4 linked regions of the Homo sapiens genome follow. The protein of the gene in region 3 purifies or fractionates together with the protein of the main gene of each other region. This does not show direct contact. Each region holds a gene or a part of one and is shown on either strand. Other genes may lie near its edges.

Evidence for each region.
Region 1: the proteins of P2RX2 (region 3) and KIAA1586 purify together in Homo sapiens (affinity purification with mass spectrometry; 2 studies listed by BioGRID and IntAct, with this or other methods). This does not show direct contact.
Region 2: the proteins of P2RX2 (region 3) and GALNT11 purify together in Homo sapiens (affinity purification with mass spectrometry; 2 studies listed by BioGRID and IntAct, with this or other methods). This does not show direct contact.
Region 4: the proteins of P2RX2 (region 3) and HS2ST1 purify together in Homo sapiens (affinity purification with mass spectrometry; 2 studies listed by BioGRID and IntAct, with this or other methods). This does not show direct contact.

What each region holds. Positions count from the first base shown.
Region 1 is NC_000006.12:57,042,360-57,049,936, reverse strand, and holds the start of KIAA1586 (E3 SUMO-protein ligase KIAA1586), read right to left. Parts: upstream 3,245-7,577; 5' UTR 3,182-3,244; coding exon 3,161-3,181; exon of another isoform or gene 3,016-3,160; intron 2,625-3,015; coding exon 2,541-2,624; intron 1-2,540.
Region 2 is NC_000007.14:152,098,234-152,105,815, forward strand, and holds part of GALNT11 (polypeptide N-acetylgalactosaminyltransferase 11), read left to right. Parts: intron 1-2,564; coding exon 2,565-2,688; intron 2,689-2,961; exon of another isoform or gene 2,962-3,150; intron 3,151-4,878; coding exon 4,879-5,045; coding exon of another isoform or gene 5,046-5,068; exon of another isoform or gene 5,069-6,659; intron 6,660-7,011; coding exon 7,012-7,137; coding exon of another isoform or gene 7,138-7,154; exon of another isoform or gene 7,155-7,582. UniProt on the Homo sapiens protein: Polypeptide N-acetylgalactosaminyltransferase that catalyzes the initiation of protein O-linked glycosylation and is involved in left/right asymmetry by mediating O-glycosylation of NOTCH1.
Region 3 is NC_000012.12:132,614,257-132,622,019, reverse strand, and holds the start of P2RX2 (P2X purinoceptor 2), read right to left. Parts: upstream 3,245-7,763; 5' UTR 3,204-3,244; coding exon 3,031-3,203; intron 2,582-3,030; coding exon 2,446-2,581; intron 2,342-2,445; coding exon 2,270-2,341; intron 2,177-2,269; coding exon 2,101-2,176; intron 2,021-2,100; coding exon 1,924-2,020; intron 1,754-1,923; coding exon 1,673-1,753; intron 1,576-1,672; coding exon 1,437-1,575; coding exon of another isoform or gene 1,432-1,436; intron 1,020-1,431; coding exon 889-1,019; coding exon of another isoform or gene 766-888; coding exon 675-765; coding exon of another isoform or gene 656-674; intron 546-655; coding exon 480-545; coding exon of another isoform or gene 402-479; coding exon 48-401; 3' UTR 21-47; coding exon of another isoform or gene 1-20. UniProt on the Homo sapiens protein: ATP-gated nonselective transmembrane cation channel permeable to potassium, sodium and calcium.
Region 4 is NC_000001.11:87,099,144-87,106,725, forward strand, and holds part of HS2ST1 (heparan sulfate 2-O-sulfotransferase 1), read left to right. Parts: intron 1-4,288; coding exon 4,289-4,446; intron 4,447-5,326; coding exon 5,327-5,553; 3' UTR 5,554-7,582. UniProt on the Homo sapiens protein: Catalyzes the transfer of a sulfo group from 3'-phospho-5'-adenylyl sulfate (PAPS) to the 2-OH position of iduronic acid (IdoA) or glucuronic acid (GlcA) within the heparan sulfate (HS) chain and participates in HS biosynthesis.

The sequences.
Region 1 (7,577 bases), on a different chromosome or scaffold from region 3:
TGATAACCCTGCTTTATCCTCCACATCACTGTACAGCCAAACATCAAACTCTGAGTCTTCTTGATCCTTTCTTTACATATACACTACCCTCATCATAGACCAGGCCATAAATGCCCTAGTCAAAATCCTAGATTTTATTCTGTAGGCAAAGGAATCAATAAATAACATCAAGATGGGAACATTATTAGAGCTGTTTCAAGAAGGTTAACCACATAAGAGAGCATGTGGGAAGAATACAAACAAGATAATCAATCTAGACAAATGGTAATGTGGTACAAAAATAGTGATGGCAAGGAGGAAGTAACCTTCCCTGTATAGGTACTATATTTCAATAAAATTTACATTAAGATAAGGACTCTTTTTGTATCCCCAAATCTTTTATCATTCCTTTCTTTCAGCATATTGTTTATTTTGGAGGCTAGGTACATGACAGAACACAAAGAGGATTCTGTGCCACAACGCAGAATGAAGGCTAGATAATCAACATTTATATGAAAAGACTAAGGAATCCAAACCAGAATATATCAAGAAGTAACAAACTTTTTTTTCTTTTAATCTGAAGAACCCACAAGCAGAGAACTATACCCAGCAGCATTGCATCTTTACTGGATGGTACTATAAAAAACACAGAGAAATAAGCATATCCTGGTAGAGCCCAGTATAGGATGGGGTTACAAAGGAAAGTTGTCTCTGAGTGTATTTCAAAGTGGAATTAAGTTATCATTGTCTTTTATGTGGCACCACTGAAATGCAACAGGGATGTTTTACTACATTCTTTCTGGTACTGCAATTACACTGACAGCATGTAATTCACTTCTCCATATAAGAGCTGTCAAACCTTTGATCTTCTATTTTGAACAGGGTTAAATATAAAGGGTTCTATCACGCTGGATATACAAAATATTGTATGAAAAGATGTAGAAGGATCTTTATATTTAAAATAAAATTTAAAGTAAGAGTTTTAAACCTCAGCTAAACACAGCCTATATATTAACTCACAATTTAAAATATAATGATTTATTCCTCAGGATATTACACAAATCTATACCTATTTACTTTTCCAAACTTAATTTTGTACATCCCATCTGTGTTTCTCAACGGCACATGGATCATGAATCAGACGTATGTCACTTCTACATACTTTCTCAATGGCACATGGATCATCAATCAGACGTGTGTCACTTCTACATACAGATGCACAAAAAACTCATCAAGATCATCTGTCCCAATCATTCCTGTTTTTATACCAGTTAAGAGGAAACCAAAATTATTTTTCCTAAAGACCCATGAACTCCTCTTCCCAAATGTTTCTCGTTACAAAAACAGAAACCATTGCTCTTTGATTTCAAGTTACGTTGCTTACTCCATAACAACAGTGAAGGCAGAGTCAGCATACAATCTCCCTTGGTATCATCAATATTTAGAAAGGTTCCAAATGTCAGGAACAAAATATACACACACTATTAATTGGGAAATATGTCCAGAAAGTGACAGGGTAAAGAACTTATACACAAAACACGAAAAACAAACAACGATGTTAACAAAACAATGTTTAGGGAGGAAATTTTAATTTAAAAAACAAGTGACTTACAAAGTCGCCCTAAACCTACAAAAACTAAAAAACACAGAAACATTAGACAGACACTCCATTAAAGAAAAATTCTACAGCCTGAATACCAAACTGCAACTAACTACGGCATTCCAAAAGACGAGTTGGGGACAGAACTGTTTTCTGCCTGGCGAGCTGAGATACCACTTTACGCAAAGCCTTTCTAAAACTCCAACAATTATGGATGAAAATCACCCCAAAATATATCATAAAACACTCCCTTCTGCTTTAGAAACCCATTCTGTCCAAAGTGTGCTCAGAAATCCTTATGTCCCTGCACTTGTCTGAAAATGAAGATTCCTAGGCCCCCGCCTGGAAATTCTGATTCGGTAGGTCTGCAGTGGGGCCCAGGAATCTGCCTGTTTATACTTACTAAGGCTTGAAAACTACTGTCTCAAAGGGAACAAACTCAGAAAAATAGAGCATGTTCCCAGTGATGTAGGATTCTTCATTATGAGCATCAACTGTACTATGCCGTAACATGATGATCTCAGAGGTTAGAGAAATCTTCAAGCTATTTGCCTTCATGTTAGAAGCACCATAACGCTAAGATTCTGGGCTCTCACAACCCTTCCTGTTTTCTACGTCCTTGCTCATCATTAGCAGCTCCTTCCTCCGTGTCGCCTTTAGAAGTTACTCTTGCTCCATTTCAAAACAGCGTTTTAGACACCAGCGTTTTTATCTTAAGTTTAAATGAAAGGCAGGGGGCGAGATTAAGTGTACAGCACGTTCTTTAGGACGTGCTCTTTGTGATGGCTACGGGGGTGGCTCAGATAGCTCTTTTGGTAAATTTCCCAATCCTGCGCCATGCTCCAGTGTCTAGTATGTATTAGACACTCATGAACATTAAATGACCAGGTGAGGTAACATTACATAATGGCCCACCATAGTCTTTTACTCTGGGAAAACCCCAATCATCATTGCTACTTACACTGACAAACTGAATGTCGTCTTCATTTTCATCCGTTGTTGACTCAGATGCCTCAGGGCCAGCTGGAGGGACAGATTCTATTATCTATAAAAACAAGCCAAAACATGCTTATCTGTTCAGCCACATTCGTGTAGGAAGAGAGCGTTTCCGAAAGGAACAATTAAAGACAGAGAGCTCTTGAGGAAAACGAACTGAGCACAATTTCACGGAAACCCGACTAGGAACGGAACTCGAGCTCTGGCTCTTGCCACAGAGTGTGCGGAGCTGCAGGGACCCAACGCTGAAAACGCGTTAGTTACCAGCCTCTCACAATTCCCCTTATCTACTCCAGGAGGAACGCAAGCTCAACACCGAAGGGCAATCCTGCCTTAAAACGTCGCTCCCACTGGCCCAGCCGCGGCCACAACGAACGCCAGGGCCCGTGCGGGGGGCCGGGCGGCCATTGTTGCTGCGGGTTCCTCGCTCAGACACGCACCAGGCCCCAGAGCTGGGCTCGGCCCAAGACACTGAAGAGGTATCGCCCCGAGGCTGCGACGGAGCACCAGGCCTCAGACCGCAGAAAACACAAACCCTTCGCGGTTCGCCTCTGAGAACGCCAGGACCCTCACTCGACTACTCACTTCCGACCCCGGGTCTCCCATGTCTCCGACGGCCGCGCTGACAGCACCACTGCTCCTGCTGTCCCTACTGCCGCAGCCGCCACCACTCCCCTTCCCGCCCTGCACCGCCTCGCGCTACCGGGACCCGCCCCTGCGTGAGCTGGGAGGCCACTGGCGGAAAGAGACGAAAACCGCTTCAAAAGAGGGGCAGCCCTCACTGGTCCGCTATCTCCCCGGAGCCTCTTTCTCTCATTCCCGGGCTTCCTTCCCCGCGCCGCAGAGGATGCTGGGATGGTAGTTCCTACCCGCCGCGCGACCGCGCCGCGCGACTGCCCCGCGCGTGGGTGAAGAATGGAAAAAGACTCTGAGCTACAGCGAAGTCGTCTCCCTTCGGTGTTGCTCTACTATAATAAAATAGCCGAGTTCTTTCTCTCACTTTTTCACAACCAAATATTCGTCTATGTAATAGATCAATGGGAATGAAAAAAAATTGTGTGTGATTTGCTCAGAAATTGCCTTACCAAAATCGTGGCTCACCTTTTTATTTTAACATTTATTCACAAATGATTTTAAACATGAAATTTATGAAAGCAAATTTTAACAGAGAATATTCTTTTAAAGCTTTTATTTGTTTACCTCTATCAGCCTAGGACCACCTGTTATTGACAAGTCTGTAGTCCCAGAAAATCACCTTTATCATTTTGACCCTGATCTACAATGCACAAAATTATACAACAAAGGAGCTATGAGGTATCTGATTAGCCAACTGATCTTCAGCAAAGCAAACAAAAACATAAAGTGGGGAAAGGACACCCTTTTCAACAAATGGTGCTGGGATAATTGGTGACCCACATGTAGAAGAATTAAACTGGATCCTCATCTCTCACCTTATACAAAAATCAACTCAAGATGCATCAAAGACTTAAATCTAAGACCCGAAGTCATAAAAATTGCTCAAGATAACACCGGAAAAATACCTTCTAGACATTGGCTTAGGCAAAGACTTCGCGATGAAGAACCCAAAAGCAAATGCAACAGAAACAAAGATAAATAGACTGAACTTAATTAAACTAAAAAGCTTCTGCACAGCAAAAAAAATAATCAGCAGAGTAAACAGACAACCCACAAAGTGGGAGAAAAGGAGAACATAGGAACAAAGGAAAACATAGACTTACTAGGATTTTAAGGAGTTGGTGAAATTTAAGTGAAGCAGTGTTTTGATAGGTTCAAAACCGTCTAGTGCTGTGTGTAAAGGGTTCAACATCACATACGGACTGCATAGCGAGCCCAGGGTCTTGTTAACTTCAAAACTACAAAGTTAACACACACAGAGTATTGTGCTCAGAAACCCCTTCCTCCGTGTAGCCATGCCCTAAGTGTGTGGATTTATTTCTGGGTACTGTATTCTGTTCCATTTGTCTGTGTGTCTGTTTTTATACCAGTACCATGCTGTTTTGGTTACTATAGCTCTGTAGTAGAATTTGAAGTCATGTAATGTGATTCCTCCAGTTTTGTTCTTTTTGCTCAGGTTAGCTTTTGCTATTATTCTCGGTCTTTTGTGGTTCCACATAAATTTTAGAATTGTTTATTCTGCTTCTGTGAAGAATGTCATTGGTATTTTGATGGGGATTGGATTCAATCTGTAGATTGTTTTGGGTAGTATGGGTAGTATGGACATTTTTTAAAAATAAAAATGTATTTTTTATTTCAATAGGTTTTTAGGAAGCAGGTGGTGTTTGGTTACATGCATAAGTTCTTTAGTGGTGGTTTCTGAGATTTTGGTGCACCCATAACCCAAGCAGTGTATCCTGTACCCGATGTCTTTAATCCCTCACCCCCTCCCACCCTTTCCCGAGTCCCTGAAGTCCTATGTGTCATTCTTATGCCTTTGTGTCCTCATAGCTTAGCTTCCACTTATCAGTGAGAACATACAACATTTGGTTTTCCATTCCTGAGTTACATCACTTAGAATAATAGTCTCCAGTTCCATCCAGATTGCTGTGAATACCAGTATTTGCTCCTTTTTATGGCTGAGTACTATTCCATTGTGTGTGTGTGTGTGTGTGTGTGTGTATGTATGTGTATATACACCATTTTCTTTATCCTCTTGTTGATTGATGGGCATTTAGGCTGGTTCTATATTTTTGCAATTACGAATTATGCTCCTATAAATATGCATGTGCAAGGATCTTTTTTGTATAATGACTTATTTTTCTGTGGTTATTCCTCTTCCTAGTAGTCAGATTGCTGGATCAAATGGTAGATCTACTTTTAGTTCTTTAAGGAATATCCACACTGTTTTCCATAATGGTTGTACTAGTTTACATTTCCACTAACAGTGTAAAAGTGTTCTCTTTTCACCACATCCATGCCAACGTCTATTATTTTTTGATGTTTTGATTATGGCCATTCTTGCAGGAGTAAGGTAGATTTGCAGTGTAGTTTTGATTTACATTTTCCTGATAATTAGCTGTGTTGAGCATTTTTTCCATATGTTTGTTGGCCATTTGCATATCTTCTTTTGAGAGTTGTCTATTCATGTCCTAAGCCCACTTTTTGATGGGGTTGTTTTTTTTTTTCTTGCTGATTTGTTTGAGTTCTTTGTAGATTCTGGATATTAGTCCTTTGTCAGATGTATAGATTGTGAAGATTTTCTCCCAGTCTGTGGGTTGTCTGTTAACTCTGCTGATTTTTTCTTTTGCTGTGCAGAAGCTTTTTAGTTTAATTAAGTCCTGTCTATCTTTGTTTCTGTTGCATTTGCTTTTGGGTTCTTGGTCATGAAATCTTTGCCTAAGCCAATGTCTAGGTTTTTTCCGGTGTTATCTTGTACAATTTTTATGGTTTCAGGTCTTAGATTTAAGTCTTCGATGCATCTTGAGTTGATTTTTGTATAAGGTGAGAGATGAGGATCCAGTTTAATTCTTCTACATGTGGGTCACCAATTATCCCAGCATCATTTGTTGAAAAGGGTGTCCTTTCCCCACTTTATGTTTTTGTTTGCTTTGCTGAAGATCAGTTGGCTACAAGTATTTGGCTTTATTTCTGGGTTTCTATTCTGTTCTGTTGGTCTATGTGCCTATTTTTATACCAGCACTACGCTGTTTTGATGACTATGGCTTTGTATATAGTTTGAAGTTGGGTAATGTGATGCCTCTAGATTTCTTGTTTGTGCTTAGTCTTGCTTTGGCTATATGGGCTCTTCTTTGGTTCCCTATGAATTTTAGGATTGTTTTTCCTAGTTCTGTGAAAAACGATGGTAGTATTTTGATGGGAATTGCATTGAGTTTGTAGATTGCTTTTGGCAGTATGATCATTTTCACAATATTGATTCTATCCATGAGCATGGGATGTGTTTCCATTTGTTTGTGTCATCTATAATTTCTTTCAGCAGTGTTTCGTAGTTTTCCTTGTAGAGGTCCTTCACCTCCTTGGTTAGGTGTATTCTTAAGTACCTTATTTTATTTATTTATTTAATTTTTATAGGTATTGTAAAAGAGGTTGATTTCTTGATTTGATTCTCAGCTTGGTCGCTGTTGGTGTATAGCAGAGCTACTGATTTGTGGACATTAATTTTGTATCCTGAAACTTTACTGAATTCATTTACCAGTTCCAGGAGCTTTTTGGATGGGTCTTTAGGGTTTTCTAGGTATATGATCATATCATCAGCAAAAGCAACAGTTTGACTTCCTCTTTACCAGTTTGGATGCCCTTTATTTCTTTCTCTTGTCTGATTGCTCTGACTAGGACTTCCAGTACTATGTTGAACAGAAGTGGTGAAAGTGGGCATCCTTGTTTCATTCCAGTTCTCGGGGGGAATGCTTTCAACTTTTCCCTGTTCAGTATAATGTTGGCTATGAGTTTGTCATAGATGGCTTTTATTACTTTAAGCTATGTCTCTTAAACATAGAGTTGATTTTAAGTGCCTTGAGGTAATCTTCTTTGGGTTAAATCTGCTTGATGTTATATAATCTTCTTGTACTTGGATAATAGTATGTTTCCCTAGTTTTGGAAAGTTCTCTGTTATTATCCCTTTGGATAAACTTTCTCTCTTTTTTTTTTTTTTTTTTTTTGAGACAAAGTCTCGCTCTGTCACCCAGGCTGGAGTGCAATGGTGCAATCTCGGCTCACTGCAACCTCCACCTCCCAGGTTCAAGTGATTCTCCTGCCTCAGCCTCCTGAGTAACTGGGACTACAGGCACCCGCCACCACGCCTGGCTAATTTTTGTATTTTTAGTTGAGACAGGGTTTTGCCATGTTTGCCAGGCTGGTCTTGAACTCCTGACCTGATCCACCCGCCTCAGCCTCCCAAAGTGCTGGGAATACAGGCTTGAGCCACCATGCCCGGACCCTTTGGATAAACTTTCTACCCCTGTCTCTCTCTCTAGCTTTTCTTTAAGGCCAATACCTCTTAGGTGTGCACTTTTGAGGCTATTTTCTG
Region 2 (7,582 bases), on a different chromosome or scaffold from region 3:
TTGGGCTCAGAAGTTTAAGACCAGCTTAAGGTGGTATCTACTGAAAGTTTAAAAATTAGCTGAGTGTGGGGGCGCATGGCTGTAGTCCCAGCTACTTATGAGGATTGTTTGGGCCCAGGAGGCAGAGGCTACAGTGAGCCGAGATTGCACTACTGCACTCCAGCCTGGGGGACAGAGCAAGACCCTGTCTCAAAAAAAATAAATAAATAAATAAATAAATTTAAAATTAAAAACATTTTCTCATTTAATCTGAAATTAATTATAAAATTAATTGAAAAGGGTCCTCTGGCATGTTAATTCATTGAGGTTTGGCTACAATTTTGAGTAGGGGAATAAGAAAAGTAAGCTAAAACAATCTTTTCATATGGAATCTTTTCAAGAGACCTATAATAGAACATGATTCTTTCATGTTCTGATACTTGTTGAATTAAGGAGTATTTATTGAGAATCTTCTTTGTGCAAGGCTCTGCTCTAGGTTCTAGGTATCAAGCAATTTTAGTTTTATTTCTTTTATGTTTTGGTCATCACCAAAGTCTCTTCTCTTGTGGAGTTTCTCTCCTTGTATAAAATGCTAGTGGAGGTTTGTTGTTTTGTGTTTAAAAAGGATGAACTGCATTTGAAACAGTTTCAGAGAGAAGGCATATTAAGAGATAATGTTTCTCAAAGTAGATATGGGGACACTAGTTGCGTTCAGATAAATTGGGGAAACACTGCATTCTATTTTTTTTGAGACAGAGTTTTGCTTTTGTCACCCAGGCTGGAGTACAGTGGCATGATCTTGGCTTGCTGCATTCGCCTCCTAGGTTCAAGTGATTCTCCTGCCTCAGCCTCCCAAGTAGCTGGGATTACAGGCGTGTGCCACCATGCCTGGCTTATTTTTGTATTTTTAGTAGATACGGGGTTTTACCATGTTGGTCAGGCTGGCGTTGAACTGCTGACCTCCCATGATCCACCCACCTTGGCCTCCCAAAGTGCTGGGATTACAGGCATGAGCCACCACGCCCGGCTGGAAACACTGCATTCTATATCTCAACCCTTTACACCTGGATATTCATAAAACATTCACTGTATTAAAGGAACAGAGTTCTACTATTTTTTAAAAATGGACTTTTATTTATTTATTTATTTATTTATTTATTTATTTATTTATTTTGAGACAAAGTCTTGCTCTGCAGGCTGGAGTGCAGTGGCGCGATCTTGGCTCACTGCAACCTCTGCCTTCCGGGTTTAAGAGATTCTCCTGCCTTAGCCTCCCAAGTAGCTGGGACTACGGGAATGCACCACCACTCCCGCCTAGTTTTTTTTTTTTTTTTTTTTTTTTTTTTTGTATTTTTAGTAGAGATGGGGTTTCACCGTGTTGGCCAGGCTGATCTTGAACTCCTGACCTCAAGCAATCTGCCCGCCTCCACTTCCCATAGTGCTGGGATTACAGGCATAAGCAGCCGCGCCCTGCCTAATATTACAGTGACTTTGATTAGGCCTGTGGAGGAATTCCCTGACAGTTAAACCAGAAACTGTGAAGCTTTTTTTTTTTTTTTTTTTTTTTGAAAAGACAGGATCTCACTCTGTCACCCAGGCTGGAGTGCAGTGGCACAACTGTGGCTCACTGCAACCTTGATGTCCTGGGCTCAAGCAGTCTTCCTGCCTCAGCCTCCTGAGTAGCCAAGTCATGGAGACTACAGGTGTGAGCCACTGAGCCACCACACCTGGCTAATTTTTTTTTTTTTTTTTTTTTTTGTAGTAGAGACAAGGTCTCGCTGTGTTGCCCAGGCTGGGCTCAAGCAGTCCTCCTGCCTTGGCCTCCCAAAGTGCTGGGATCACAGGCGTGAGCCATTGCGTCTGACCCGGGAAGCTCTTTTTATGGAAAAGCTTATCAGTCGCCTTTTTCTGGGGAGGGACTCCTGTAAAAACTCGCATGTAATTGAGGCCTGTCAAGGGCCACTGGGGTTCTAAAATCTATTGCTTTAATGGAAAATTATAAAAATTTTTTTCCTGGTTGCAGGTAAATTTTTCTTTTGAATATAATAAACTATTCTTAAGATTATGGTTTGTGGCCGGGCGTGGTGTCTCACGCCTGTAATCCCAGCACTTTGGGAGGCCGAGGTGGGCAGATCACGAGGTCAGGAGATCGAGACCATCCTGGCCAATATGGTGAAACCCCGTCTCAACTAAAAATACAAAAATTAGCTGGGCGTGGTGGCATTTGCCTGTAATCCCAGCTACTCGGGAGGCTGAGGCAGGAGAATCGCTTGAACCAGGGAGTTGGAGGTTGCAGTGAGCCAAGATCGTGCCACTGCACTCCAGCCTGACGACAGAGGGAAACTCCATCTCAAAAAAAAAAAAAAAATTATGGCTTGTGAGCAGGTGGTGTTTATGGTTAAGACACCTTGCTTTGACCTAGACTGATAAGAATTTGACTTCAACCTAGAGACAACCTAAGTTTGAGAAAAGAGATATTAGATTATAATAGGATAAAGTCAGCATTTTCTTAAGATCATAATATCGTTAACAGTAACATGATACTTTCTAGATTTAATTCGCTGACTAACTTCACTCTTTTGCAGGTATGATTTTTAATGAACGCGATCAAGAGTTGAGAGACTTGGGCTATCAGAAACATGCTTTTAATATGCTTATCAGTGACCGCTTGGGCTACCACAGAGATGTGCCAGACACAAGGAATGCAGCGTATGTGCCTTATCGGATTTGCAAATACATTTTAACAACACGATGCTTTTAGTGTCAGTGTAAGAGGTCACGAGGACGGGGTTCATATTTCCCAATGCAGCGTCTTTATTCAGCATACTAGGAAACTTGAGACAGATTTCCACTTGTATTATATGTGAAGCCACATGGTCTGAGATGTACCAACAGAGTCCTGGAGCTTGCTGTGTCTCCTTTAACATTTCAGATCACCTGGGGAAGCAGAGTAGGGTGCTAATTAAATAACCTGAGTATAAGTTTGTTCTAAATGTTTATTGATTGGATTCATGGCAAATAGGAATTAACATCAGTGAAGAATTTTACTCTCATTTCACTTTTCTCTTTCATTGTTTTTTTTCCATCAAAGGCTTTTCGTGCATGTGGTCAGTCATTCCACAGACAGACATTTGTTGAGCACCTTCTGTTTGCTACACGCCGTCTTGAGCCCTGGAAGAAACAAACAGATGTAGTAGTTCCTCAGTTCTCAGGGCTAGAGTCTAGCAGGGGAGGCAAATAAGTCAACAAGTCCTTACATGAGTAAGGGCTGTGACAGGGTTTGGGGAAATGGGGGCATAGTACTGGAGTGGTCCCTGCAGAGAGGTGACAAGGCTGGAGGGAGGCAGGGCTCAGATGCTGGAGGGCTGTGTGTGCCCTGGGAAAGAATTCAGGGTTCTCAATGTGTTCTCTAAGTTCATGGCTTTTTTTTGGGGGGGGGGGGATGGAGTCTTTCTCTGTTGCCCAGGCTGGAGTGTGGTGGCATGATGTCGGCTCACTATAACCTCCACCTCCCAAGTTCAAGTGATTCTCCTGCCTCGGCCTCCTGAGTAGCTAGGACTACAGGCGTGCACCACCACGCCTGGTTAATTTTTATAGTTTTAGTAGAGATAGGGTTTCACCATGTTGGCCAGGCTGGTCTCAAACTCCTGACCTCGTGATCTGCCCACCTTGGCCTCCCAAAGTGCAGGGATTACAGGCGTGAGCCACTGCGCCTGGCCAGTTCATGGCTTTTTGATGTTGCTTAAAGCTCCTAACCCTTTTTTTCCCAAATAGTTGCTTGGAATGATTTGATACATGGAAGCTCTTCTGTTATCTTGGTATATCATAATTTATTCAAATCTTTTTTATTATTGGGCAAAAAAATAAAATTTCAAATATAAAGTCTTATATTTGTTTCCTTTTGAAACCTCATTGAGGAGAAGCTGGACATCAGCTCATGAGTGCTGCATGAAACACTTGCAGTGATTTTGGTAAAAAGAACTCACATTTTTATGTACCCTCTCTTCCAAAAAAGAAAAAAAACCCTGAAGTTTAAAAAGTCTTTATTCGGCTGGACATGGTGGCTCACACCTGTAATCCCAGCACTTTGGGAGGGCGCGGTGGGTGGATCACGAGGTCAGGAGATCGAGACCATCCTGGCCAATGTGGTGAAACTCTGTCTCTACTAAAAATACAAAAATTACCTGGGCGTGGTGGCGCAGGCCTGTAATCCCAGCTACTCAGGAGGTTGAGGCAGGAGAATCGCTTGAACCAGGGAGTCGGAGGTTGCAGTGAGCCGAGATCGCGCCACAGCACTCCAGCCTAGTGACAGAGCAAGACACCGTCTCAAAAAAAGAAAAAATTTATCCAAAAGTAAACAAGATAGCAGGTATAGGAGGGAGACATTATTAGCAAAATGTAAAACTCTTGAAGAAGAAACCGTATTGTTTTTGTAAATGCTTTTAAAAAAAATTGTTGTTACCATAATGTTAGAAAGAGGCTGAACAGGCTGGACGTGGTGGTTCACGCCTGTAGTCCCAGCACTTTGGGAGGCTGGGGTGGGCAGATCACCTGAGGTCAGGAGTTCGAGACCAGCTTGACCAACATGGAGAAACCCTGTCTCTACTAAAAATGCAGAATTAGCCGGATGTGGTGTCGCATGCCTGTAATCCCAGCTCCTCGGGAGGCTGAGGCAGGAGAATCGCTTGAACCTGGGAGGCGGAGGTCACGATGAGCCGAGATAGCGCCACTGCACTCCAGCCTGGGCAACAAGAGCGAGACTCCGTCTCAAAAAAAAAAAAAAAGGCAGGGGGTGGGGGAAGAGGGTGAACAAGGGGACAGTAAATCTGTAGGTGAATAATAATCTAAACCATTCGAGCCTTTTAAAATGTCAGAATTTCCTCATCTTTATCTTTACAGATGTAAAGAAAAGTTCTACCCACCTGACCTGCCAGCTGCTAGTGTTGTTATCTGTTTCTATAATGAAGCGTTTTCTGCCTTGCTTCGGACAGTGCACAGTGTCATAGACCGCACGCCAGCACACCTGCTTCATGAGATCATCCTTGTGGATGATGATAGTGACTTTGGTAAGGAATGCTGCACCTGGTAACATTGGATCCAGGCTGTCAGTCACTACAGCACTGACAAACACTAACACAGCTGAACTTTCAAGTACGTGGTAGGTGGGGATCCTACACGTGCAGTCACAGCTGGGCTGACCACAAATAAGTCTGAAGAAATCCATTATCTTTGTAACCTGCTTATAAACTATGCTACCCAAATTTGGGCCGTGAAATTTTTTCCGTGGCTTACTTTAAAAAACACACCTCTTTTTATTTGAAATAACTGTAGGTTCACAGGAAGTTACAAAGACGGCCTATGTACCTTTATCCAGTTGCTCCATCATAAAATTCCCCTGTCAGAACCAGGAATCCACATTGGTACAGTGTGTGTGGTCCAGGGTCATTCTGTCACACAGGTGGACTCCCACAACCCTCACTGCAATGATACAGAACTGTTTCCTCACCCGGAGGGCCCTTGTGCTGCCTCTTTCTAGTCACACCTCCTGCTTTCCTCTACTCTTCCCCAGTCCCTGAAACCACGACTCTATGATTTTGTTTCCATCTCTGATTTTGTTATTTCAAGAATGTCATATAAATGGAATCACACGGTATGTGACCTTTTGAGATGGGCTTTTTTCATTTGGCATGATGCCTTGGCTTATGCTTCTCTATTAAGTCTCTTACACTGATCGTCCCCAGATAAAAGTGGATTGCATTCTGATAGCTCCTCAATGATCTCTGAATGCCAGTATTTTATGATTCACTACATATTCTATATTCTGTACGCCTTTCTTAATTCAACATAGACTCTTGCTAAGAATGGCTTTGTGTACCCAAACAGGATAGAAGGCTTTTTATTACACTGCTCATTCAGCTCTCAGTGACCTTGCAAGAAAGGCTGGAAGCCCATTTTATAGAGGGAGAAATATAAAAAGTAATTTGCTCAGACCCCATAGCTGTTAAGTAGTAGAGTGGAAATGAGACCTCTGGTCTGCATAGCTCCAAGCCTTCTGCTCTTTTCATGACAGCAGGCTGCAGGAACACAGTGGTACAGGTGTATGCCAGTGACTTTTTCATGCACTCGAGCGTTTATTAAGTACCACTTGTATCAACATCAGAGTTGGTATACCAGTATACTTAAATATAGAAGGTAAAGAAATGGAGAGAGTCATGGGAGCAAAATTCTCAAACCTTGGCCAAAAACAAACAAACAAAAAACCTAATAAATAAATCTGAGTCTGGACCACGTAGAAGATTGGTTACATACTGATTTCTAGAATTTATGGTTGGTTTTTGTTTTTTTTTAAGTCAACTTGTATTTTGGTTTTCACTTTGTGGCTATTTTACCTAAAAGGAAAAATTCATAATTTGAGGTGGTTTGTATATTAACTATGGAAAGAATTACTGCTTATTATCTTACACGATCTTTCAAGTTATTCTGAAATATACAGGTGAATGACATAGAATTCCTTAAAAAATATTTAGCAACCTTGGAAGAAAGATGCTAAATTAATAAAAGGACATATTCAATGCTGTTCTTGTTATTCTTGGTAGGGGCAATAGAAGTTGTTTCTTAACTATTTTGAAATGGACTAAGACTTAATAAATTCCTTTGTAATAAAAGGCATTTATATCTCATTTTCTTTGTTATCAATGTGATTTATATATGGTCAGCTGAACATTTATGCACTCAAAATACTCATTTCAAACATTCTTTGTGCAAAGCATTGTGCTCGATGCTATGGAGATACAAATAAGTCTGTAACTAAAGTAAGTATTCCTCTTTGCTAGTATTCCAGCTCTTACCCTTCATTTCTTTTTCTTCCTACAGGATAAGCTACAATACTCTTTTAAAGTAAAATATTCTGTAGTATTTGCTTGATAGTTTGTTGTAAATTTTAGCAAGTACTAGATACAACTTTAGAATAGCTGTAAAGTGTCTTTATATATGTCTCATACAGTTTGAATAATTGTGGGACTTTATTTTCAGATGATTTGAAAGGAGAACTAGATGAATATGTCCAAAAATACCTCCCTGGAAAAATTAAAGTCATAAGAAATACAAAGCGTGAGGGGTTGATTCGAGGGAGAATGATTGGCGCGGCCCACGCGACAGGTATCACTTCTCGTTAGCTTTGCTCTACAGGTGTTGGATGACAAGGGCTCGAGCCTCAGCGCCTGTCCTGATTCTGCAAAGTCTATGAAGAGTAGTGTTTCAAACGGACATTGCCAGCAGGAGAGATGAGGCTTGTTCTGTTTGGGAAAGACCTGTTCATAACGCCAAGCCTGCCATCCCAAAGCACATAGTGCAGGGGGCTGAACTCTCAAATCCTCAGTGTCTATTTTCATAGCAACCCTTCTTTGATACTTACTGCCCCTCAAATATATTTTATATCTTATTCACTTATATAAGCAGAAAAGCCCAGACCAAAATGTAACTGAATTTTTATGTTTTTAAATACAAAATTTAAAATGTATGAACCCAAACTGTCGATTGGAACTATGCTTTTAACTCTTAGTGCGGAGTGCATCCCTCTGGAGCCACACATCATGACTTTAAT
Region 3 (7,763 bases):
CTGGCCCCACCAGGCCGGGTCTGCAGTCCAGTGAGATGGAAAGGAGCTCAGAGTTGAGCCAAACCTTTGGGGTCTGTGGGTGTGGAGGCTTGGGCAGGCTCGGAGGCAGGAGTGTCCACCATCTGCTCAGAAGGGGCAGAGATGGGGCAAGGCCGCAGGGGCGGGAAGGCTGGGCCACACTCTGCCCCTTGTTGGCCCTCCTGGCCTGATGGAGGGCTGGGGTGCTGGTCCTCGGAGCGGTGGCCGGGTTCGGGAGGGGCCTGGCCCAATACACGGGCAAGGGTCACAGGCCAGCTACCTGAGGGGTGGCTCGGCGTACACACCTTGTCAAATTTCTTATGGCTGTAGACCTTGTTTTTGTTCATGAATGTTAGCAAGATCCAGTCGCACAGGAAGGAGCCCTGGGGCCAGCAGAGACCGGTGTGTAAGGGCCTGGTGGACCCCCCGCACCCGCTGGGACCCCAGAGAGGGTTCCTTACCACCCCGACGGAAGTCAGAGCTGTGGCCAGATTAATAATGGTGGGAATCAGGCTGAACTTCCCGGCCTGGGGAGAATGGGGGTCGTGGTCAGAATGTCTGACGGCGTCTGATGGGGCTTAAGGGAGGGGTGGGGCGTGAGGAGCTCAGACCCAGGCTAGCAGGGCTGGCCACCCACCCCCAGCAGGTGCAGGCACCTGTCCATGCACAATGACGTCAATGCGGATCCCGTAGGCCTTGATGAGCGTGCGGGTGGTGGTGCCATTGATCTTGTAGTATTTGGCAAACCTGCAATGGGAACGCCAGTGCCCACTCGTCCTCTGCACTCCAGGGCTGCCCCACAGGCATTGGGCCTCTCGGGACCCCACCACAGCTATGCCAGTGTGGACAGCGGTGTCCCAAGTACAGCACCTGAAGTTGTAGCCTGACGAGGCAGGCACGTGCTTGGGGTCAAGCCTCCGGAAGGAGTACTTGGGGTTGCACTCCGATGCAGGCAGGTCCAGGTCACAGTCCCAGTTGATAATGACCCCGATGACACCACCCTGCCAAGAAGGAGCCAGAGAAGGGGGTCAGGAGGGCACACGAGAGGCCCCTCGAGAGCCCGGGTCAGTCCCAGGCCAGGGAAGGGGGTCACAAGGGCACACGAGAGGCCCCTCGAGAGCCCGGGTCAGTCCCAGGCTGCATGTGAGGTGTGCACTGAGGGGCCCATGGGGCAGCTCAGGGGTACTGGTGGGCGTCCAGTGTCTGAGGCACAAGGGGTGCCAGCAGCCAGCCCCATGGCCAGTGTCAATAATTCAGCAAGCGCCACACCGGATGGGTTGCGCTGATCGCATTTCTTTTCCTCTGCCTGAGCGGGGCCAGCTGGTCAGGAGGGAGGAGGGACTGGTCCCCTGTACCCCAGGCCCTCTCTGTGCAGGTGGGAGCCCACCCTGGCCCCACCCTGCCTGCGCTTGCCCTGCCTTGTGTGCGAGCTCTGTGAAGCTCTCCCCAGCCTTCTCCACGATAAAGCCCAGCTTGAAGATGGGGCAGTAGAGGTCGGAGGCCTCGTGGAACGTGCAGCGCTTCAGGTACCCGTCTGTGCGGTCGGCGATGTTGCCCCTGAGGAGGCGGCAGGAGGCGAGACCTGCACCCCAAATACCCCATTCCCAGAAGGCAGCCCTCAGGCTGGGCCGTCACCACACCCCGCGGCTCTTACTTGGAGAAGTGGAATTTGGGGTAGTGGATGCTGTTCTTGATGAGGATGGTGAAATTTGGGGCCATCGTACCCAGAAATTGGCTGAGGAGGCACAGAAGGGTTGTTTAGTCCCCTCTTCCCGCAAAGCCCCCGCCTGGCATTGGCCCCCACCCCTCCCCAGATCTTGTCACTCCTGCCCCGCCCGTTTGGCCTCTGGTCAGGGGAAAAGGATCAGAGGGGAGGCTGGGCCCCAGGCCGGGGCGCAGGTGCACCTGACAGAGGCCCCATCTTCCACCGGGCACCAGCCGAACACCTCGCAGGTCTTGGAGGGCCCCTGGTAATAGGGCACACAGCGCCCAGTCCTCAGGCCTGGGAGGCAGAGGTCACTGAGGCATTAGCGGGGACGCAGCCCTGCCCCACCCGCCCAGCCCCAGCTGGCGCACACCGACCGTTTCCCAGCATGTCCAGCTCCCCAGCCACGCAGTCGGCGTCGGAGAGGCAGGTGGCGTTGTGGACCCTTATGCTCTAGGGTGGAGGCGGCCCAGTCAGGGACCCCGCAAGGGACAGCTGGCCCGCCTAGCTGAGGCGGGGTCCCCCAGCGCCGCGGGATCCCCTCACCTCGGGGCAGGTTCCCTGGGTCTGGGAGTGGGTGGCCTCGACCCTGGTGATGATGCTGAACACGCTGCCCCCCTGGGCTCAGAAAGAGGGGGCGGTCGGCCAGGCGGCAGCCGCTGCCCCCTCCGCCCACTAGGGTAGGGTGCACGGCGGGGCGGGGGGCAGGGGGCGGCCCGCACCTCGGGGGGCTTCACGTACTCCTCCACGTCCCACACTTTGTGCTCGGACGTGGTGATCCCCTTGACCTTGGTGATGATGGAGCTCTCGGGGCCCGTCTCGCTCTCCTGGTAGCTTTTCTGCACGATGAATACGTACCTGCGGGCAGGGGCGGCGCCGGCTCCGGAGGCGACCCTGGGAAGGCTGAGTCCCGCCCGCAGGCACGGCAGGGGCCCTCCCGCGACCCGGGTCCGCTCTGCGGGGCTCTTGGGGCCTGCCCCGCGCCCTCGGTCCCAGCCCCAGCCCCTGCCCCGCGCCCCCGGTCCCAGCCCCAGCCCCTGCCCCGCGCCCCTGGTCCCAGCCCCAGCCCCGCGCCTCCAGCCCAGCACCCCGAGTCCCAGCCCCTGCCCCACGCCCCCAGTCCCAGCCCCTGCCCCGCGCCCCCAATCCCAGCCCCTGCCCCGCGCCCCCGGTCCCAGCCCCAGCCCCTGCCCCGCGCCCCCGGTCCCAGCCCCAGCCCCAGCCCCGCGCCTCCAGCCCAGCGCCCCCAATCCCAGCCCCTCCCCTGCGCCCCGCACCCCGCGCCCCGCACCCCGCGCCCCGCGCACCACACGAAGTAGAGCAGGATGAGCAGCTGCACGGCGCGGTACAGGACCCCCAGGCGCCGGTTCCTCACCACGATCACCTTGGGCGTCTCGTAGTCCCAGAGGGCGGACCAGCAGCCCCGGGCCAGGCGCCGGGCGGTCGCCCCGGCGGGGTACTTGGGCTGGGCGGCGGCCATGGCGCGGGCGGCCCCCACCTCCAGGAAGGCGCTGCAGGGCTGAGGGTCGGCCCCGCTGCGCACCGAGAGCGGGGGGCGCGCGGCGGGCGGGTAGCTCGCGGCTCCGCCTCCGGGGTGCGGCCTCGAGCCCGCCCCGCCTCGCCCCGGCCCCGCCCCGCCCCGCAGGTGTCCCGGGAGTCCCGGGTGTCCCAGGTGGGGCTGGGAGCGGGGCCTCGCGGGGACAGAGCCGGGGGCGCGGCAGCCCAGCCCCAGCTCTTGGTCCAGGTGGGGGCCGAGCGCGGAACCGGCGGTCTCGAAGTTGGAGGGTCGGGATTCCCCGGGTGGGAACTTTTTCCGAGCTCGAGGAGAAAGACATGGGAAGTCCCGCCGGCCTCCGCGGCGCCCCCCACCCCGTCCAGGCCGGTTCCTGCCGCGGCTGCCGGGGCTTCGAGCGCAACCTGCACTCCCGCCTTTGCCAGCAGACGCCTCGCTTCCAGCTCCTGCCTCCGCCGCAGCTCCAGCCCTCGAGCTGGAGAGGGATCCACGGCCGATCCGTTTTCTTCTTTGCAAGCCAGAGTTTTCTTTCTTTCTTTCTTTCTTTTTTTTTTTTTTTGGTAACTTTTCGAACCTCCACCCCACCCACATTATTTTGAAGCAAATCCCAAGCATCACAGTTTTTCACAAAATAATTTTAAAATAGTTTATTATGATAAAATCAGCATAGCATGTAATTAACTATTTTAAAGTAAACAATTCAGTGACATTCACAACATTGTGCAACCACCACCGCCTCTGTTTCGTCCCCAAACACTTTCCCCACCCCAAAATAAAACTCCCATCCATTAAGCAGTCACGACCCGTTCCACACTCCTCCCATGCCCTGGCAACCACTGGTCGCTTTTCTGTCTCAGTGAATGGACTTGCCTGTTCTGGATATTTCATATCAAGGAAATGCAATATTTGTTTCTGGGTTAATGCCTTTTCTGTCTGGCTTCATTCACTGAGCATGTTTTCAAGGTTCATCCACATTGTAGCATGTGTCAGGGCATCACCCCTTCTTATGGCCAGGAGAAATGTCTAGGCTATCCAAAGAAGGAATTTAGATTGCTTTCAAACTAACTCTGTGAATAGTGCTGTTATAAACACTGGTGCATAAGTATTTGTTTGAACTGTTAAATTAACTCAATTAACAGGCTGCCTCTGTGCCTTGAGTTTCTAGGTAACAACAAACTGCAACCTAATGTACCACAGAAACAAGCTAAAAGCTTAACCTATGAGTATATTTTGGAACAAATAGCTGGGTCTCAGCCAGTCACAGGCTGCTAACTGATCTGATCATGCCATATAAGGCAAACATTTCAAGCAGTAACAAAATCAAGCTAATTGTGATTTTTTTTTTTTTGTATCTCACTTCTGTGTTCTATCTATAAAAACTTCCTGCCCACATTACAGAGTGGAGCTCTCGAACCTCCCCCATTGGTTCTGAGTGCTGCCCAATTCATGAGTTGTGTTTTGCTCAATTAAACTCTGTTGGCTGGGCACAGTGGCTCATACCTGTAATCCCAGCACTTTGGGAGGCCAACATGGGTGGATCACTTGAGATCAGGGGTTCGAGACCAGCCTGGCCAACATGGCGAAACCTCGTCTCCACTAAAAACACAAAAGTTAGCCAGGTGTTGTGGCATCTGTAATCTCAGCTACTCGGGAGGCTGAGGCAGGAGAATCACTGGAATCTGGGAGGTGGAGGTTGCAGTGAACTGAGATTGCACCACTGCACTCCAGCCTGCATGACAGAGGGAGACTCTGTCACACACACACACACACACACACACACACACACACACACACACAAACTCTTAAATTTAATTTGTCCAAAGTTTTTGTTTTAACAGTTTGGTGTCAGAAGTGGGATCTGAAGTAGACCTCCAGCCACCCCCTAGGAGCACTGAATGCTCAGTAGGGCCTGTGTGCCTGCTGATCTCTCAAAGCATCTAGAGTCATAGGTGAGTTCTCTCTGCTGGATTTGTGCTCTATGACCATGTGTTTTGAGCCCTCTACTTTGAGCAATTCTTTTTTTTTTTGAGATGGAGTCTCACTCTGTTGCCCAGGCTGGAGTGCGGTGGCGTGATCTCAGCTCACTGCAACCTCCGCCTCCCAGATTCAAGCAATTATCCTGTCTCAGCCTCCCAAGTAGCTGGGATTACAGGCACATGCCACCGCGCCCGGCTAATTTTTTTGTATTTTAGTGGAGACGGGGTTTCACTGTGTTGCCTGGGCTGGTCTCAAACTCCTGAGCTCAGGCAATCCACCTGCCTTGGCCTCCCAAAGTGCTGGGATTACAGGCATGAGCCACGGCGCCCGGCCTTGAGCAATTCTTAGACCGGAATGGGTCCAGGATTGAATTGGATCCAAAACTTAACTCTATTGTATCCAGTTAGAGGCCTTGAGTAGGTCCCTTTTGGCTTGGGTTTGTCTGAATCCAAGGAGTCTGCGTGCCGCCTTCTGGGACGTTTGCTAATTATGTGTGTAAGAACTATGGACCCAGAACTTGTGCACATTTTAGAAAAATCGGCTAACCCCAAACTCAAAAAGACCCCTCCAGATTCTTGGAACCGTACACCTTTCGGAGACCTTAAGGTGAAGCTAACCAGGGAAGTTTTCCCCAGAAGCAGACGGGATCCTAAATGTGGACAGCTTTTCCAAGATCATGGGTTGAGACTTCTCTGCCATCATGACAGCCTTAGCCTCCCCCTGGCCCCTTATTTCCTGCTGTCTGAATCTTTTCCTTTTCATTACAGGAAAATCCACAGCACCATAATGTGTGGATGGCGTCAGCTAAGGCTTACGCTCTAGGAAAAACCCAGAGTGGTAGTTGGGTTTGTGGGTTAATGTCAAAAGCCAGGAAACTACATCAATCCCTGTCATTTTTCACGATGACGGTCACTCTGGAACTCCCAGGGGAGAGTGGAGAGCGTCCCCATGTGTCCCAGGGGAGACTGGAGAGTGTCCCCATGTGTCCCAGGGAAGAGTGGAGAGAGTCCTCGTGTGTCCCAGGGAAGACTAGAGAGCGTCCCCGTGTGTCCCGGGGGAGAGTGGACAGCCCATATGTCCCAGGGGAGAGTATCCCCGTGTGTCCCAGGGAAGAGTGGAGAGCGTCCCCGTGTGTCCCGGGAGAGAATGGACAGTGTCCCCGTGTGTCCCAGGGGAGAGTGGACAGTGTCCCCCTGTGTCCCGGGGGAGAGTGGGGAGCGTCCCCATGTGTCCCAGGGAAGAGTGTTCCCGTCCCTGTGTCCCAGGGGAGAGTGGAGAGCATTCCCGTGTCCCAGGGGAGAGTGGGGAGTGTCCCCGTCCCTGTGTCCCTAGGAAGAGTGGACAAACACACTCTCCTTTATGTTCCAGACACCGCTGCTATCACTTTCATATACCCGCTGAAACGGTGTTCTGACCTTTCCAATTAATAATCCAAACACTGCTCATATGTAAAGCGTGCCTGAACGATGCCTTCAGAAGGTAGATGAGGCTCCAGGCATCACATACTCAAGACCTGGGAGTTCTCTCTGTGGGTGGGAGACACGGCATGTGTGATGTCACTGGATTGAGTCCAGTGAGGTCCCTTTCCATTAACTGTGGTTACACACCCTCACAGCACACTGTAAAGGGAAAAGCTTCATACCGGAGCTTTTCCGCTGGACCTGCTTCGGGAGCTGTACTGACATGTGGGTGAAAACGTGTCACTGACTTCTGCTCAGATGCCACCAGGTGGCGCCCTTTTCCAGCCCCCGAGAGCTTCTGCTGGGTCTGTGGAGAATCCGCTGTTGGGCCTCCTCACTGGTTTGAATCTTGCAATTTGGTCCGGCTCAGTCCTGCCTTCCAAGTAGCTTCCCCTGACAGTTCCCACCCAGGATACCTCCCATAATCGGAGGCCAAAGCAGTCAACAACCAAAATTAGCACCAGCCTTGAAATAAATGAAGTTAGTTTTCACTGAAGAAAGTTTCCATTAGAATTCTTGGTGGTGGTGAGGTGCTGGTTGTGTGGAATTCTAACCTAATTAGTAAATTGGGGAACATCTTGGGCTTTGTGGCCAACCCGACCTCCCAGGATTTTTTTTCCCCCCAGAACTCCATGAGTTCACTCCCAGGGATTTAGACGGGTGGAAGTCACGCTCTGAAAGGTGGATTACTAGAAATCACACAGCTTTAGGTCTGTTAAAGGATATCTGCAAAACAACAAACAAACAAACAAAAACCCAGTTAACAACTTTCTTCCTAAAAATTATTTTTTATTGTAATAAAACATTTAACATGAGACCCACCCTTTTAACAACATTTTAATTGAACAATACAGTATTGTTAACTACAGGTGTGATGTTGTATAGCAGACCTGGAACATACTCATTTTGCATAACTGAAACTGAAACTTTATCCCTGTTCAGGAGCAATTCCCTTTTACCCTCTCTGCAGCCTCTGGCAACCACCATTCTACTCTCCACTTCTATGAGTTTGACAACATAATTTTTTTTCATAATTTTTTTTGAGATAGGATCTCACTCTGTTGCCCAGGCTGGAGTGCAGTGGTGCAAT
Region 4 (7,582 bases), on a different chromosome or scaffold from region 3:
TGTGGCTGTTTTCACACTGCAGCAGCAGAGTTGAGTAATTGTAACCTAAACCATGTGTATTAGCTGTTCTTGCATTACTGTAAAGTACTACCTGAGACTGGGTAATTTATAAAGAAAAGAGGTTTAATTGGCTCACTGTTCTGCAGGATGTACAAGCATGGCACCAACAAGGGCCTCAGGAAGCTTACACTCGTGGCAGAAGGTGACGCAGGAACAGGCATATCACATGGTGGGAGCAAGAAAGTGGGCAGTAGGGGTGGGGGTATGGTTCCCAGACTTTCAAACAACCAGATCTTACGTGAACTGAGCGAGAGCTCAGTTATCACCAAGGGGATGGCACTAAACCATTCATGACAGATCTGCTCCCATGAGCCAATCACCTCCCACCAGGCCCTACCTCCAGCATTGGGAATCACATTTCAACATGAGATTTGGAGGGAACAAACATCCAAACCATATTATTCTGCCCCTGGCTCACCAAATCTCATGTCTTTCTTATATTTCAAAATATATTCATCCCTTCACAGTAGTCCCAAAGTCTTATTCCAGCATTAACTCAAAAGTCCCAAGTCCAAAATCTCATCTGGAGATGAGTTCCTTCTACCTATGAGCCTGTGAGATAAAAAACAAGTTATTTATTCCCAGTAACAATGGTGGTATAGGCATTGGATAAACATTTCCCTTCCAAAAGGGAGAAATTGGCCAAAAGAAAGGCGCAGTAGGCCCCACACAAGTCTAAAACCCAGCAGGGCAGTCATTAAATCTTAAAGCTCCAACATAATCCTTGACTTCATCTCCTGCATCCTGGTGCAAGGGGTGGGCTCCCAAGGCCTTGAGCAGCCCTGCCCCCATGGCTTTGCAGGGTACAGCCCACATGGCTGCTCTCATGGGTTGGAATTGAGTGTACCTGTAGTTTTTCCAGGCAAAGCGTGCAAGCCGATGGTGAGCCAACCATTCTGGGGTCTGGAGGGCATAATCACCTTCCCACAGCTCCACTAGGCAGTTCCCTGTTTGAGTCTTTGTGTGGGGTGAGGGCTGCAGTGCAACCCAGTTCTGAAATCTAGGTGGAATCTGCAATCTAGGTGGAATGCAAGCTCCTTCATGCTTGCATTCTGAGCATCTGCAGACTTAACACCACCTGGAAACCACCAATGTTTACAGTTTATGCTCCCCCAGAGTGGTGGCCCAAGCTATACCTGGACTCCTTTGAGCTGAGGCTGGAACTGGAGTGGCCGGGATGTGGGGAGCAATGTCCCAAGGCTTCTCAGGGCAGCAGGACCCTGGGCCTGCCCCCTTAAATCATTCTTCCCCCCAAGGCTTCTGGGCCTGTGATGGGAGGGGCAGCCTGGAAGATCTCTGAAATGCCTTTGAGGCCTTTTTCCCATTGTCTTGGATATTAGCAGTTGGCTCCCTTTTAGTCATGCTAACCTCCTTAATAAGTGATTGCTCCACAGTGTTATTAAATTCCTTCCCTATTCCCTGCCCTATTCCCTGGAAAATAGGCTTTCCAGTGGGAGTGGTTGCTCATGCCTGTAATTCCAGCACTTTGGAAGACCAAAGTGGGAGGATCACTTGAGCCCAGAAATTTGAGACTAGCCTGGGCAACCTCATCTCTACAAAACATAAAGTTAGCCAGGTGTGGTGGCATATGCCCATAGTCCCAGCTACTTGGGAGGCTAAGGTAGGAAGAACACATGAGTCCAGGAGGTTAAGGCTGCAGTGAGCCAAGATCCAGCCTGGGTAACAGAGCAAGACCCTGTCTTTAAAACAAAAAACAACAAAAAGAGGGGGCTTTCCTTCTCTACCACATGGCCAGGCTGTGAATTTTCCAAATGTTTATGCTCTGCCTCCCTTTAAAATGTAAGTTCCAACTTTAAGTCATTCCTTTGCTCTTGCATTTGATTGTAGCCTCTTAGACACAGCCAGGCCACATCTTAAATGCTTTGCTGCTTAGAAATTTATTCTGCCAGATGTCCTAAGTCATCACTTTTGTGTGTGTGTGTGTGTTTTTTGTTTTTTTTTTTTTTTTTTTTTTTTTTTTTGAGGCAGTCTCACTCTGTCAGCCAGGCTGGAGTGCAGTGGCACGATCTCGGTTCACTGCAACCTCCGCCTCCCGGGCTCAGGCAATTCTCCTGCCTCAGCCTCCTGAGTAGCTGGGATTACAGGCGTGTGCCACCATGCCCAGCTAATTTTTGTATTTTTAGTAAAGATGGGGTTTCGCTATGTTGGCCAGGCTGGTCTCGAACTCCAGACCTCAGGTAATCCGCCTGTCTCGGCCTCCCAAAGTGCTGGGATTACAGGTGTGAGCCACCGCACCCGACCAGTCATCACTCTAAGTTCAAACTTCCATAGATCTCTAGAACTTGGACACCACATAGCCAAGTTCTTTGCTAAGGCATAACACAGGTGACCTTTACTCCAGTTCTCAGTAACTTCTTCATTTCCCTCTGAGACCTCATCAGCCTGGACTTCTGTCCATATTTCTGTCAGCATTTTTATCACAATCATTAAACCAGTCTCGACTTAAGAAATTTCAAAGTTTCCCTCTTCTTCCTGTCTTCTTCTGAGCCCTTCAAATTCTTCCAACCGCTGCCCATTACCCAGTTCCAAAGCCACTTTCCCATTTTCAGGTATCTTTATAGCAACACCCAACTCCTTAGTACCAATTTTCTCTATTAGGCCATTCTTACATTACTGTGAAGGAATACCTGAGATGGTAATTTATAATGAAAAAAGGTTTACTTGGCTCATGGTTCTGCAGGCTGTGCAAGCATGGCACCAACATCTGTTTGGCTTATGATGCAGGCCTCAGGAAGCTTACAATCATGGCAGAAAGTGAAGTGCGAGCAGGCACATCATATGGCAAGAGTGGGAGAAAGAGAGTGAAGGGGGAGGACCCAGTCGTTTATTATTATTATTATTATTATTTTTGAGACAAAGTTTTGCTCTTGTCGCCCAGGCTGGAGTGCAATGGTGTGATCTCGGCTCACCGCAAACCTCCACCTCCCAGGTTCAAGCAATTCTCCTGCCTCAGCCTCCTGAGTAGCTGGGAATATAGGCATGCACCACCATGCCCAGCTGATTTTGTATTTTTAGTAGAGATGGGGTTTCTCCATGTTGGTCGGGCTGGTCTTGAACTCCCAACCTGAGGTGACCCGCCCACCTTGGCCTCCCAAAGTGCTGGGATTACAGGTGTGAGCCACCGCACCAGGCCCCCAGTCTTTTAAATAACTAGATCTCTAATGAACTAACTGAGCCAAGAACTCAGTCATCACCAAGGGGATGGTGCTAAACCATTCACAAGGGACCTGCTCCCATGATCCAGTTACCTCCCACCAAGCCCAGCCTCCAACACTGGGAATCACATTTCAGAATGAGAGTTAGAGGGAACAAATATCCAAACCATATCACTATGTAGTCTGCAAAACCTAAAATATTTATCCTCTGGCCTTTTATATAAAAAGTTTGCCAATCCCTGCCTTAGAACAATAAAGACTTGCTCTATTGGGCATTTTTGAGAAGTTAATTGTATTTCTTTAGTATGTTTCATAGATTCACAGAACTGGGAGGGTTCTTAGAAACCAATTAATCACTGTTCCCCTCCCCCTCTTTGTTTTTTTTAATAGTTTGAGAAAACAAAATTGAGAAAGGTGAAGCCACCAGCTCAAGATCATACTGCTACTTAAATGCAGAGCTAGAATTTGGATTAAGGAATATTTGTGCTAAAAAGAACCCAAAAGTATAGTTTATTTTGGATCAAATCTCTGTTAATAGCATTAGCTGACAATGTAAATTAAAATAAAAATAAAAGATTCTTAGCAGAGCCATTATCTATTTTCTGTTCCTCAGAAATTTCAGAAAACACTTAGCTCACAAAAACCCGAAACTCACACAATAAGCAGTAAACACAAATTGTTTACACTTTGCTAGAGAGCTCTTAACAGAATTTAGAGTAGTTTAAAAAAGTTAAAACACACACTAAATCATATGGGAGGGGTGTATGTTTCTTATATCCATATACATTTTTAAAGTGCCCTTAAACTAAATTGCTCATGTTAAGAGTCCTCTGGTAAACTCTGAATTAGCACTCATAGTTGAGCAGAAACTGGAGATGGAAGCAAATGAAATTGGAAACAGGTGTGCCTCCCACAGGATGGTAATAAAGAGGCATTGAGGCTTTGGATATACATGTGTTTATCTATTTTCTCTGTAATATATGGTGTCAAAGGCACCAGAAACACTCAGCAGATTTCACAACCAGGTTTTAATTCCTTTTCTTTGGTTTCAGGAATGTGGGAAGCAGGTGGGCTATGGATCAAGCCAAGTATAACCTAATTAATGAATATTTTCTGGTGGGAGTTACTGAAGAACTTGAAGATTTTATCATGTTATTGGAGGCAGCATTGCCCCGGTTTTTCAGGGGTGCTACTGAACTCTATCGCACAGGTATATAAAGGAAGGGTTTCTTTTTAAAGCTTTCTTTGGTTTGGTTTTTTGGTTTGCAACTTGTAAATATGTGATTTGAAGTTTCTTCAGTGAAACACAACAGATAGCTCCAGAAAGGCAGGTATCTTGTCGGTTTCTGCTCACTATTTTCAATTGAGTAACTGTGAATTAGGTGAAAATTAGAAGGCACTGTAGAAATAGTGGAATGATACAAAGTACAGAACCAGCCATAGAAATGTATGGTATTCAATAATGCCAGATATCAAACATTAGGCCTGTGTATAAGTCCTGCCTACTACCATTTTGAAGTAGAGGTGTGATAGGGGAACTGAAGTATGCCTAAGCCATGTTTTAGCAGCCTCAGCCGTATTATCATGTGTCTGAAAGTGATAAGCTAATTGTGTTTTTGTTTTGTTTCGTTTTTTGCTATTGCTTGATAAGATGCAGTCATAGGAACTCTTCTCCTTGAGGATGCATATGCCCTAGCTTCTAACACATAATTTTAGAGAATACAGATTATGAGAAAATAGAATACAGTTTGACAATAGGTATTTTATCAAAAATAAACTAGTCTCAGAGCACCAAGCACTTGAGAATATAGTGTGTGAGGTGACAGCCTACACTTTACTGTGTGCCAATCCTTACATTGACTATTTGACATTTCATTAAGTCTTTACTAGGTTAAGGATTAACATTCTAAAGGACTGAATCATGGCTCTAGTTTGATCAAGGCTCCGTTTTTACCTGAATTATATAAGACAATTATGTTACCTGTTCTTAATGTGTCATATTAACCACCTCTTCAAATAAAGAGGCATTGATCTTTTGTGTGTTCTCCAAGAATTATTTACCTTTCCTTTTTTTCCCCCTTTGTAAGTAGGAAAGAAATCTCATCTTAGGAAAACCACAGAGAAGAAACTCCCCACTAAACAAACCATTGCAAAACTACAGCAATCTGATATTTGGAAAATGGAGAATGAGTTCTATGAATTTGCACTAGAGCAGTTCCAATTCATCAGAGCCCATGCCGTTCGAGAAAAAGATGGAGACCTCTACATCCTCGCACAAAACTTTTTCTATGAAAAGATTTACCCTAAGTCGAACTGAGTATAAGGTGTGACTATTGGATTCTTGAACTAAAATTTGACCCTGTCTTCACCTTTGTTCTCAGCTCCACAGTCTGGATTGCTGACAGTAGGTGTATATGACAATTTGTATTGAGCCAAATTAGGAAACAGACAGTAACGTCAAGGAAGTAGATACTGGCTGGCATTGTCAGTGTTCTAAGTTTCAGGCATTTTTATTTTTCCTGGCTAAACGTTGGTGAAAGTTATAACCTCCTGCCTGGGAGAAAATATACATCACCTAAAATGAACTTATGGCAGGTCTAATCAAAAGGCTAAATACAATTTCAGAAAAGGTTCTGATACTCTTGTTTTTGATAAAGCATTTTTTCAACTAACCATGAATTAAGATGAGTCCATTTGCCTCTTCTGCCTTCACTGAGGGTTTGGGTTATACACCTCTACTGAATTGTGTTAATAACTGTTTGGCAGTGTGTACTTTGTTTTTGTGAGTCATGTCTCATGAAATTTATTGGAATGTTTAATCATATTTGCTAAGAAATGTTTCTGCTGTAGTTGGATTTGCCCATATTTATGTAGGTGGTTTTAATTTTTTAAATGGTGATTAGTGTTAAAAATCAATTTAAATCATGACTAATATGGTAAAAAGATAAAGCATCAAAGCAGTATTTCTCATTCCTGCCTCCTCAATATCTAATACTGGGAAGATACTTCAAAGAATATTGAGATTGTCTGAAGTTTTAGTTAAGATTTTCACACATTAATATCAAAAAAGTAAGTTTAGTATTTGTTTCTCCATGGGTTATTTGTAAAGCTGTAAACTGAGATATCGGTGACTCCGTATTATGACTCCATTAGTGAGCTGTGGTATGGGTAGGATTTTCCTACTTCTTCTGTACTTTTACCTGTAGACTATTTTTACTAAGGTGCTTTATAATGTGTTTTAAAGCATTGCATTTACAAAACAAGGAAAATGCTGTAAATATTGCATATTTTATGTATTTGGACCAAAAGGTTACAAGTAATTAGACAAAAGTGGTTTTGCACCAATTTTATGTCAAGTAAAACCATCAGACCTACTGTTCTTGTATTTCTCATTTAACTTTACTGTTAAGACATCACTGAAATGAACTTCAGTAAGCTTTCAATTTTGATACACAGTTCATTATTCATAACTTGAGGCAGTAATTACAGTGGAATGAGTACTGGACAAGGAGTCAAAAAACTTGATTTCAGGTCCTAGCTCTAGCACTTACAGCTGTGTGATCTTGGGCAAGTCACTTAACCTCTCTTTGCCTCAATTTCCTCATCTTGAAATGAGGATAATAATACCTGCTGTACCTACCTCACAGGGCTGTTGTGAGGATTAAATGAGATGGCATGTGAAAGCACTTTGAAAATTGTAAAGCGCTATGTAAATGTAAGGTATTATAGAAACATCTTTAACATATAGTTTCATACCATTCATTTTTTAACAAAGAAAGGGAAAAGTCTGCTTGTAAGCTGGTTGAAAAAGTTAATCTTGATATAAATTTGTGTTTGATAAATATCCTCTCAGTGTTTTATCTTCCATGTTTCAACAACTATTGAAATATGAAATGCCTGTGAACTCTTAAAGCTTCATGAGCAGCTGCTTGAGTTCAGGAAGTTCACTGTTAGAAATAGGCTTTGTTAGCTGACTAGGGTCAGGGAAACTTTTCTCTTCAAATTTGAAAGCTGTTTCTGTTTTCATTTTACATTATTATTCAGAAATGGTAGCTATTCTATACCTATGGTTTAAGTAAATATTTCTGAATAAGGCTTCACCATACTGTAAGCATTTTAGGTAGATTGCCTTAAAGGTTATGGGAGGGCATGAGGGAACACTTCTTATGAGAAAACATTTATAAACAAAAGAAACATTTATAAACTAAAGAAAAACTAAAAGAATGACAGAACAATCATCTTAGCACCCTTTCCTCACAATAATATAAAAATATTAAAAGAACATAGGCAGGCTTTTTTTAAATTTGGCTTTTTTCTTTCCTTTTTTCAAATTGACTTTTATAGGT